3 linked regions of the Homo sapiens genome follow. The protein of the gene in region 2 purifies or fractionates together with the protein of the main gene of each other region. This does not show direct contact. Each region holds a gene or a part of one and is shown on either strand. Other genes may lie near its edges.

Region 1 (3,653 bases), on a different chromosome or scaffold from region 2:
GCTAGGGTCACCACTGAGAACCCCTTCACATAAGTGGCTTTTACTTCCCCTATACTGCTGTCTGATTTCTCCTGTTCCTGGTGTCTTTTCATATTCTTTTTATTATCTCTCTCTTTCCCTCGTCTTTTTCCACCTCTCTCCACCACCATTTTTGCTGCTATCTCAGGGGAGCTGTGCAGCTGACCTGTATCGACACCCACAGCTTGATGCAGACATTGAAGCCGTGAAGGAGATCTACAGTGAGAACTCTGTATCCATCAGGTGGGACTCTACTTCAGGGGTGGCAGGGGAGCAAGTCACTTCTTTCTGAGTTGTTAAAAGGCTAGAGGTTTTTCTTTTTATGGTATGATAGTGGGATAAATTATGAACTTAATGATAGAAAATGCTCAGAATAAATGAGCTTGGCTGAGAGTAGAGAGTAAGGCCACTTTTCTTAGGAATTCCCTCTTATCCTAGACCCCTCTGGGCCAGTAGTTTCACCTTTCAGGTAAGAAATGCTTTTGGCCTGGAAGTAGATCCTGATCAGGTAAGTGGTGTAAGGCTATAGCTAAGACCCTAGGTACAAAACTGTCATCCACTCTTCCCTTTCCCCTGTCCCCAGGCTCAGTTCTCTTTCCAACTCAGTTTCTATTCCCTTCTTTCTCCCTTAATGAGTCTCACCTGTTGTCACCTGTATCTCTATAGAGAATATGGAACTATCGATGACGTGGACATTGACCTCCACATCAACATCAGCTTCCTCGATGTAAGTGGGGCTAGTACCTGCCAACAACATGTCTAGCTGGACTTGTGGAATTTGTCATGTAGGCCAGGAGTCTTGTTCCCGAGTGCTGTATTTGGAGCACATATTCTTCATCTCTGTCTTTCCTAGACCATCAGCAGACAGTGGTGTGTACTGTCATGTGCATGTGTGTGTCATATAGGGGAAATTTCAGGTCCATTCGTCTATGTTGCTAAACTGGAAACTATTTCCCTTCTTCTTTTAGGAGGAAGTCTCTACAGCCTGGAAGGTCCTCCGGACAGAACCTATTGTGTTGAGGCTGCGATTTTCTCTCTCCCAGTACCTAGATGGACCAGGTAAAGGCAGTGACTTTGGGCAAGTGGGTGGTCTGAGTGTGGTCTAATCCAAAGCCCTAAGTTAACTGAGGTAGAAAAAAATTAGGAACAAGGTCCTTGGGCTCAATCTGCAGGCTATTGGTAGGGGCTTTTTAGTCCCCTGTAATTGGTATCTTCATCCCCTGTCACCTAATAACCATTCCCTAAAGGCCTTCTTGCCTAATGACATTGTTTTCTCTGGTTCCAAGATAAAATTTCTTTCTCCTCCTTTTCTCAACATCCTCCTGAGGATATTTCAGATTCATATGACAGCTTCGAGAATCTGCCCTCTCCCTCAGATGTTTTTTTTCTTCCACCGTTACTGTTTAGAGTACCCAGCAGCTATGATCTTTAGAATGTATGGAAGCTATTCCACTGAGCTTTGGACTCCAGGAAGACAAGAGATATGTACTTACTAGTAGCCTTCTCTTCTCTTTGCAGAACCATCCATTGAGGTTTTCCAGCCATCAAATAAGGAAGGATTTGGGCTGGGTCTTCAGTTGAAAAAGTAAGAACTTTGGTCTTTTCTGGTCATGGACATGTGAAGGAAGGAGAGAGAGGTGGAAATATATGGATGGACAGGCAGAGCCTTGGATGGAATGCCCCCTTCCAAAAATGTCTTTCTGAAATATGCCCAGGAAAAGCTAAAATAAATTTAGGGAGCCAGATTTAAGCTTGTGGAGAGAGAGTATGTGGTTCTTGGGTGTCAGAAGCTGAGACTTTCTAGAGATAAAAGAGGCTCATCACTACTTAGCATTTTTACTACCCTGAAATCAGAGTCATGCTATTCATATTTCTCTAGTGGTTTCTTCAGAGTAAGTCTCTAGGAACTCTAGTTTATTGAATGTGTTGAGCATTAAGCTAGGTATTTGGTATGCAAAGAAATGAAGCATATTTTCCACTCTCAGTGAAGTTTCAAATAGAGTCCACTGGATACATATTCTAATACAGGTGAATATGTAAGGTTTAGAAAGGACACTGAAGAGTGACTCAGTCTGTTGAAAGGGTGATGATTAATAATTTCCTTTTTTTTTTTTTTTTGGAGACAGAGTCTTGCTCTCACCCAGGCTGGAGTGCAGTGGCATGATCTTGGCTCACTGCAACTTCTGCCTCCTGAGTTCAAGTGATTCCTGTGCCTCAGCCTCCTAAGTAGCTGGGATTACAGTCACCCACCACCATGCCCGGCTAATTTTTGTATTTTTAGTAGAGATGGGGGTTTCTCCATGTTGGCCAGGTTGGTCCCAAACTCCTGGCCTCAAGTGATCCACCTGCCTCAGCCTCCCAAAGTGCTGAGATTACAGGTGTGAGCCACCGCACCCAGCCAATGATTAGTAATTTTCAAGGATGGATAAGAGTTGTCCATGTAGACAGATTCTGAGGGTGAATAACATTTGCAGGGGCTTAGTCACATAAAGCAGTATATGTGTAGGGAGCTTCAGGTAGTTAAATATTGCTGGTAAAATACAAGCTGGGGGTGTAGGAGCCAAAGCCAGAGAATAGGGAAGGGTTCAAGTTAGAGAGGATCTTGGACTTTTATCCTTTAGGCAGTGTGAACATTGAAGGGTTTAGGGAAAGAAATGACGTGGTCAGATTTATTTTTAAAAACCATTCTGGTAGCATTATACAAAATGGGTAGGAGGGGATGAGACAAGAGACCAGAACTAGTGTAGTAGGGTGCTTTTGTAAAAGTCAAGACAAGAGATGCTAAAGGCCAGAGCTAAAGTGTGATTATAGGTGAGAATGGAGATGAGAGACAGATTAGAAAGATTTGTGAGATATAAAATCAATAAGACTTGAAGACTGATTTAGATATATTGAATATAGCCATAAGGGCCAAAGAGTAGTGGAAAATACATTTAGGTTTCCAGCCTAGATGTCTGGGTAAATTGTGATACCACCAATGTAAATAGGGATATGAGAGGGGAGCAGGTTTGTAGGATGATGATAGGTAATTAGTTCCATTTTTGACATGTTATTTAAAGGTAACTTTCAGATATGCAGGTAGAGATGCTTATCCGAAATGTCAATTTGCTACTTACCAGAGTATATGTCAATTTGCTACTTAAAGGAGAGGTTAGGGTTGAAGATATGCATCAATGTGTGTGGGAAGAAGTTACAGTCAGTGAATATGAGATTGCCAAAGGAAGGCATGATAGTGGGAAAAGAAGATAGGATCAAGGACAAAATACCCTTAAACACTCAGATGAAATCCCAAAGAAACCAGCAGGGTAGGCAGAGGAAGAAGAAACACTGCAGGTAGGTCAGAGTAGAATAGGAAGATAATGGTGGCACAGAAGACAAAGGAGGGCAGGTTCTGCAAGGAGGGCCAGATGCCAGAGAAGATAAGAGAAGAACCTGGGAGTTTCCATCGGATTTAGCATCAGGATGAGAACAATTATAGTGGTGAAGGTAGGAACCAGAATACAGAAAGTTTGGAGGTGAGTGGTTGGCAACAACATAGAAACAATGAGTATGGGTTGAGAAATTTGTATGGGGATGGGAAGGCAACAGGGAGAGGTTAACTAGACTAAGGTGCAGAAAGTTGACATCTTTTGTTG
Region 2 (3,653 bases):
AAATCGCCAGTTTTAGAATCAATGGTTGCGTGAGACAGTTCTTTTTCAAAAGCCTTGATTTCTTCAGCACTTGCTGTTCGATCTTCTGATTCTGTAAACACTCTAATAATGCCATCACTGTAAGGAAAAATAAACTGATTTTAGAAGTCATTGCCATAATACATTAACATTATCACACCTGAATGATCCATAGTAAAAATAATCTGTGTTTGTGAATATGAGAAATATTAGCATGTTATTAATTGCTGATTACAGCACTGTGCTGACTTCAGCACATGCTACTCTATTATGTCAACTATTTAATAGAGAAGTTATTGACAAAGAACAGAGAAACATGTATTTTATACAATTTCCAAGTTAAATATTTACCATCATAAGAATCTAGAGCTATAGTATGTACTTTTAAAGTCAATATTTTTTAGTTATTACCATATAGAGAAGGGTAGTGGGCTAGTTTAGTTTATAAAGGGCTCAAAGACCCAATGTAGGGCTTAAAATTAGCAGATGTTCAGTAGACAAATATGGTCATCCTTTACTATGCCAGTAACTAGCAATGTAACTTCAATCAAGGAAAAAAAATGGCCTAATGTTTGGATTAGATGGCCGTCCTTAACCTCTTTTCTCAGAAAAATTACTTTATCTCCATGATTTCTTAATTCGAAATTCTGAGATAGGAGAAGCAAATTAGACACTTCCAACTGTATTAATCCTGGCCCATTCTACAGGAAACCTGTTTCTAACTTATTCGTCCACAAACATGTACATCACTCGTTCTATTGGTTTTTCTTCATATGCTTAGGAGGGAAAAAAACTAAGCCTATAAATCAGCCTCTGTCCCAGCCAAAAAATAAAACACCCACTTTATTAGACCCTCTATCCCTTATAGCTGTCACCTTCTTTTTCTTCTCTTTTTCTTTGAGACAGGGTCCAACTCTGTCACCTAGGCTGGAGTGCAGGGGCGGCAATCACAGCTCACTGCAACCTCAAATTCCCGGGCCCAAGCAATCCTCCCACCTCAGTCTCCTGAGCAGCTGGGACTACAAATGCATGCCACCATGCCCAGCTAATTAAATATTTTTTTTGTATGGAGACAGGGTCTCGGTAGCTCACCCAGGATAGTCTCGAACTCCTGAGCTCAAGCGATCCTCCCACCTGGACCTACCAAAGTGCTGGGATTACAAGTGTGAGCCACAGCAGCTGGCCTTCTTATTGCTTTCAATGCTAGAGTAGCATTATAGAGTAGTCTATGATCCTTCGTCCATCTCCTCCAACCCTTTATTTCCTCTTATTTGCCTTTTTTTCTATCATTTTCTATTCAAAATGTGATTGATGCCAAAAGTCACTAATAACATCTTTCAAACCAAATCCAAATGCTTTTCAAACTTTCCATTCTTTGACTCCTCAAACACTTTTGACACTGATGACAATCTCCCTCCAAAATCTCTCCTTTTCTGTCTCCCAGAAATTTCAACATTTGAATTCCTTTGTTCTGTTTAACCTACTAACTTCTTTTTCTCTACTAATGGTATATCATAAAACTTAGTTCTTAGTCTTCTGTTCCTCCCCTGTATTTCTTCCCTCAGAGAATGGTGTTCTATGCTTTGCTTTTGGAAGCTTTGCGAAATCTTTATCTTAGCCTCAGTTCTTATACTAAGCTCCAGTTCAAATGACCATGATCCACTGGCATGAGTGTGGCTCACCACCACTGCAGACCTCAGGAAGTCTAAGGCCACGGTCATCACCTTCTGTACCCAACCAATTCTCCCACTTCTCCATTTTTATTAATGAAGATTTCCAATCACTAACAGTTTGAAGCTTTATCCTTTTCTTTCATACTTTTTCTGATTGTTTTCCTTCTGGATTATCTCATTTACTTATTTCCTACCCATTAGCATTGTGGGGCCAATGTCTTATAACTTCACACTCCTTCTGTACTTGCTTTCTAATTTACTTTCCTGTCCATTGTCACCAGCAGTTAAATCCAATCTACATATTTAGTAATTCATAAGTTCTGCTTCAATCCTATTTCTTGCTCAAGAACTACAACCCTTCAACCCCAGGCAATGAATCTAAAAAATGCCTGGCATGAAAGCACTAAAGGTTCTCCACAGTTAAGCCCCATTGTACCTATTATCTCAGCATTAGTACTCCACCATTTTCCTTCACTTCCTATGCATGCTGCATTCATTCTCATGAAGGAAACTTATACTCTTAGCTTTGACAAAAATTTGCGTATCTTTTCTCACTCATAATCTTTCAAAATCCAGTTCAAATTTCTTCTTCTACAGAAAGTTTTCCCACACCAATCTCTACCTTCTCTAACTTCTTTTGTAGTCAATATCTTGACTGCACAATTGCAGTACAATACTGGTATATCATGCATCATTGACTGCACAATTGCAGTACAATACTGGTATATCATGCATCCCTTAGTATGAAAGCTATAATATCTACTACTGTTTTGTTTAGTAATTGAAGTGTCCATATAGTCTCCTCAAGTCACGTGAAATTCCTTATGGCTTATCTCTGTACACTCTAGTTCCTACTGAAGGCCTAGACATATAACATTTAATGATTGACTAGAATATAAATACCTCGCACCAACCACAATGTCACCATTGTCGAGCACACAGCAGCACCATATAGACTGAGCTGGAAGTCGGATAGTTTGAGCACATTCCCCATGTTTCCAGATTCTCAGAGATCTGTCCTCTGCTGTTGTCACAAAGTCTAAAATTAATGAATATAGGAAGTATTAGTTTGAATAAAATTAAGTACATTTATACATACCATCTTTCTAGATACACTGACTTTTTGAAACCCAGAGACTTTCAAAATTACAGTTTTAAATTTCATATGTTTGTCACTTACAACATATACAACTTCAAAATCACATTTTTTATTCATGTCACATCTTACAAAGTGTTTCTTCAGATACCCAAGAACTTTTTACAGCACAACATAAATCTGAATTAATATAAAGATGGCCATACAATTTTCTTCTTTGTAAACAGGAGAAAGATACTTAATGAAATAAATTTACTAAATTATTCAAGTCATAGATAGTAAATTAAGTAATCAGCTCTCCTCCCTCCATCTCACAAATGGGATGGAATAATGCTCAATACAAAACATTAAATAAATAGCATAAAATAATCTTACCTCTACAATTTGGAAAAACGGATATGCTATAAATATAATTTGTATGTCCATAATATACTTCAAGACACTCGCCAGTGATTTGCCACCTTCTAATACTAGCATCATTTGCACAGGAAAGAAATTCTGTTTCACTCAAAATTGCCAAACCTCTTACACAGTCTTCATGCCCTGCATTAAAAAACAATAATGCAAATCAATAAAACTGATAATTTGGCTGATGGCTCTATACATTTTACTAACATTATAAAACATATCAGTGAGTAGTAAAAATTAATTTTCAAGTTAGAGAAATCTTTTTTTTTGTTGAAAGCCTGATAACCAAAATTTGTATTTAAGGTTTAGCAATATTTTTTTATCACCAGTCTTCAGAAGTTATTTTACATTCATCCTACCTTCTCCAAAAACCTCCAGAAATAGTATTTTGACCCCAATAATTTGTTTTCACCTGAAAATTCATTTTTAATTTTTCTTCCCCAACAAGAGTAATTTAT
Region 3 (3,653 bases), on a different chromosome or scaffold from region 2:
TGCTTGGCTTTTGGTTTCTGTTTTCACTCTTGGCTTAAATAACAAAGGTTAACTCTAAGCTGCATTGGTGTTCCTCAAAACCATTATGCCTTTGAGTTTTAGGGTGGACTCCCCACTTCAGGTTTGTTCTCTAAAGCAAGCTGGACAAGGTGGGAGCTCCCCTCCCCTCATGGTTAGCATGCTGCTTCCTTTGGCGTAAGTGCTTGTGTTGGTTGGCGCATTAGGATTGGCTTTGGCTGACACCTCTGCCAAAACCCCAAGTTCTGCCAGGCCTGTGGGAACGGAGGGCAGATAAAGGTAGGAGGCATAAGCTTCCTGCTAGTGACCACAGCAGGAACACTCATAGGGCCCACTTGGTCTTTCTCCAGGAAAGGTGAAACAGCTCCCCTGGGGTGTCTGGTGGAGCAGAGGAGTGGCTGTAATTGCTGAGCAGGAACCATCCCTCCCTGTGTCTTGTTGATTATACGAGACCACTTTGGCCATAGGTCTACAGTTCTCCATTCTCTGTTCTTGACTCATACTGTGCAAGTGGAGTCCTTTTTGTGCAGGGACCAGTGCCAGGTAGCTTGGGTCTCAGGACTGTTCTTTCAGAGCTTGACACACAGCTTGTTTTCAGTAGTGTGGTCTTCTCTTGCCCAGAGGTTTCTTTGGAGTCAAGGACCCATCTGCCCCACTAGGAGCTGATGCCTCTTACTGCTCTTGCCTGTCTACTGTCATTTTGTGCAGCTTCTGAGCAGTTGTTAGAAACCTTTCTTCTTCTTTTTTTTTTCTCCCCTGCTTCAGGCACAGCCATCATCACAGAAGAGCATGCAGCCATGTGGACTGACGGGCGCTACTTTCTCCAGGCTGCCAAGCAAATGGACAGCAACTGGACACTTATGAAGATGGGTGGGTACAGGCATGGCTAGCCCAAACTTAGTTGGCCTGATCTGGGCAGGGATCCTAGAGGTCCTCAGGACTCCTGGATCTTAATCCTTTTATGCAGTCATGGACCCTTTTGAGAATCCAAGGAAAACTGAGAAAAAAAAAAATGGCATGCCTATACATACGTACCAATGTGCATTCAATTTTGGAGGACGCTGGTTCAGGATACTTATTTTACTGAGGGGAAACTGAGGGCTAGAGAGGACAGTTGATTTGCTGCAGATCACATTGCTGTGCATTTCACTCCTGTACTGGGGGCCTTCTACTATTTGCTGCCTCATGATTCAGAGTGAGATAAAGGCAAGGAGTCATTGGCAACAGAAGCCAGAAAGCTTTCCCCTGAGGCTCTCTCTGAGGATCTTGGATTTGCTTCTGGAAGCTTAGCTCTGGAGAAGAGCAGCATTCAGGACAAGCGAACAGGTCTGGAACTTGCTTGGGCTAGTCGCTTCACTTGAGTGCTTTAGTTTCCTCATCTGTAAAATGGGTTAATCACAGTAAGTAACATATAAAGTGGTGAGAATTAAAGCATTACTATGTGGAAAGCATATAGATCAATGTTTATTGAATAATGTGTGTATATACTCTGTGTTTTCATTTAATTTTCTGCCGTGTGTACTTTCCTGTCATTAAAATAGTCTTTAGAAACACGGTTTTAGGGACTGTACAAAGTCTTTGCTTCCTGAATTTTGAACTTGGAGAACAGAAGATAAGGAAGGGCCAAGTGAGAAAGAGAAGATGAAACAAAATACCTGATGCTTCTTGTTTGTTGTAGGAAATAATGAGGAAAGAAAATAGTCCTCAGACTCACAGCAGGAAACAGAGGACTAGACCATGACCTTGAGATCCAGGCAGCCAGCTGACTGAGGGGTGTGTGCACTCAGGTGTATGCCACACACCCTCCACATACACACACATGTGTTCTTTGTCTTAGGGAGGAACAAGGAACATTTTTGTCTTGGCATTGGATTAAGTTTCTATTTCTCAAAAATCATTTCATAAATATAAAAACACCAAAGCTACAGATTGTTGCCTGTTGCTGCAGTTGATTTCTCTTTCCCTTTCTCTCTCTCTCTCTCTCTCTCTCTCTCTCTCACACACACACACACACACACACACACACACACACACACACACAAAGGCAGGCATTTGAAGCTGGCTGTTATAAATGGACAAGCTAGTGGCCTTTAAATTTTTTTGTTTGTGTGCTTCTGTTAATGGGAGTCAAGCACCCGCAACATGTATGTATGTTTGTTTATTTGTTATTTATATGTGCTAGTGTTCCTCTATATTCCAAATATCAAAAACTAACTTTGTAATTTCTTTATAAAAAATAAATACAAATAGAAGCTCTGTTACTTTCTTCTTGCACCCAGTAGATCATTGTGTCCCCCTGGGGAGCAGGCATCTCTCTTTGGGGCCCACGGATTCCAGCTCTTAAGTCTGTTAGCATTTTGGGGGTCAGAGGCGCAAACACTGCCTGCCTGTTCCTTAATGTAGGTATGTGGCAGCAAGGGGGTGGCAGAGGGAGTGAGTCCTCCTCTCCTCCAGGCTCCTTCCTAGTTTCCTCAGTCGAGTCTTCTGTGTAGGGAGATTCTGGTGGGTTTGGTTGGCCAGTGAGTGATTCATCCCTGGGGTTTTGCCGAAGATCTGTCTGCTAGGAAATGACATGACTTCATCCTGTGAAAGTTATATTATGTAGTGTACTAGGGCATTAGGAGAAACTGTATTAATAAGTGGCTTGTTTAGTGGTTTGAAAAAAAATAGGAAAGAATCAAATAGCAGAATGAAACTCAATGTCAGCTTCTAGGCAGTTTTTTAGAATTGGAATTCATGAGCTTCTTTCTTTATAAACCTTTGCACTTCCCTTCTATGGTTATGTGGTTGTATCAGTAGTCAGTAGAGAAAATAGTAAAGATAAGTTTCTACTGTTTTAGAATATGTGAACTTTTACTCTAAATATATGTATATTTTATCAAGATGTTAATTGTTTGGCCAAAACCTCATTGGTTAAAAAAAGTATACATTTCAAAGATAACTGGCTAGATATGGAAGGTGTTGGCTTAGATTAAAGGAAAACTGGACTATAGAAGTAATTTTAGTTCTATTCTGGAGGCTGATATAGTGTCCTATGACTAGCGTCTTAGAAACAGAAAGGGCTGTCTCATCCTGGGAGTTGGGGAACCCAGAGGCTCATGTTAAAGGCAACAGGATGGCCAGCACTTTGGGAGGCTGAGGTGGGAGGATCACTTGAGGCCAGGAGTTCAAGACCAACCTGGCTAACATGGTGAAACCCCGTCTTTACTAAAAATACAGAATTAACTGGGCATGGTAATTTTGAGCCTGTAATCCCAGCTACTTGGGAGGCTGAGGCAGGAGAATTGCTTGAATCCAGGTGGTGGAGGTTGCAGTGAGCTGAGATGGTGCCACCGCACTCTAGCCTGCATAACAGAGTGAGACTCTGTCTTCAGAAGTAAATAAATAAATAAAGACAACCGGACAGGTGCCTGTGTGCCTCTCTTAAAATCTTCGGAAAGATCTCTTTGCTGCCAAGACTTGTGCTTAGCCCTCTATTCAGAGGCTGGTTATGGGGCAGCGGCCTTCTCTTGGCCACCCTGCCCTTGCAGATGAGGGGCGGGCACTGGGAGCATGTTATCACCTTACCTGGTATGTGATATGTGGGAGTCTCCCAGTTCCCAGACTTCACCAAATCACTGCCCAAATTCTCATCA

Evidence for each region.
Region 1: the proteins of PLAA (region 2) and PARP6 fractionate together in Homo sapiens (co-fractionation; one large-scale study listed by BioGRID). This does not show direct contact.
Region 3: the proteins of PLAA (region 2) and XPNPEP1 fractionate together in Homo sapiens (co-fractionation; one large-scale study listed by BioGRID). This does not show direct contact.

What each region holds. Positions count from the first base shown.
Region 1 is NC_000015.10:72,262,505-72,266,157, reverse strand, and holds part of PARP6 (protein mono-ADP-ribosyltransferase PARP6), read left to right. Parts: intron 1-166; coding exon 167-261; intron 262-684; coding exon 685-745; exon of another isoform or gene 746-888; intron 889-986; coding exon 987-1,077; intron 1,078-1,536; coding exon 1,537-1,603; intron 1,604-3,653. UniProt on the Homo sapiens protein: Mono-ADP-ribosyltransferase that mediates mono-ADP-ribosylation of target proteins.
Region 2 is NC_000009.12:26,923,231-26,926,883, forward strand, and holds part of PLAA (phospholipase A-2-activating protein), read right to left. Parts: intron 3,331-3,653; coding exon 3,163-3,330; intron 2,731-3,162; coding exon 2,595-2,730; intron 118-2,594; coding exon 1-117. UniProt on the Homo sapiens protein: Plays a role in protein ubiquitination, sorting and degradation through its association with VCP. Involved in ubiquitin-mediated membrane proteins trafficking to late endosomes in an ESCRT-dependent manner, and hence plays a role in synaptic vesicle recycling.
Region 3 is NC_000010.11:109,888,957-109,892,609, reverse strand, and holds part of XPNPEP1 (xaa-Pro aminopeptidase 1), read left to right. Parts: intron 1-783; coding exon 784-888; intron 889-3,653. UniProt on the Homo sapiens protein: Metalloaminopeptidase that catalyzes the removal of a penultimate prolyl residue from the N-termini of peptides, such as Arg-Pro-Pro. Contributes to the degradation of bradykinin.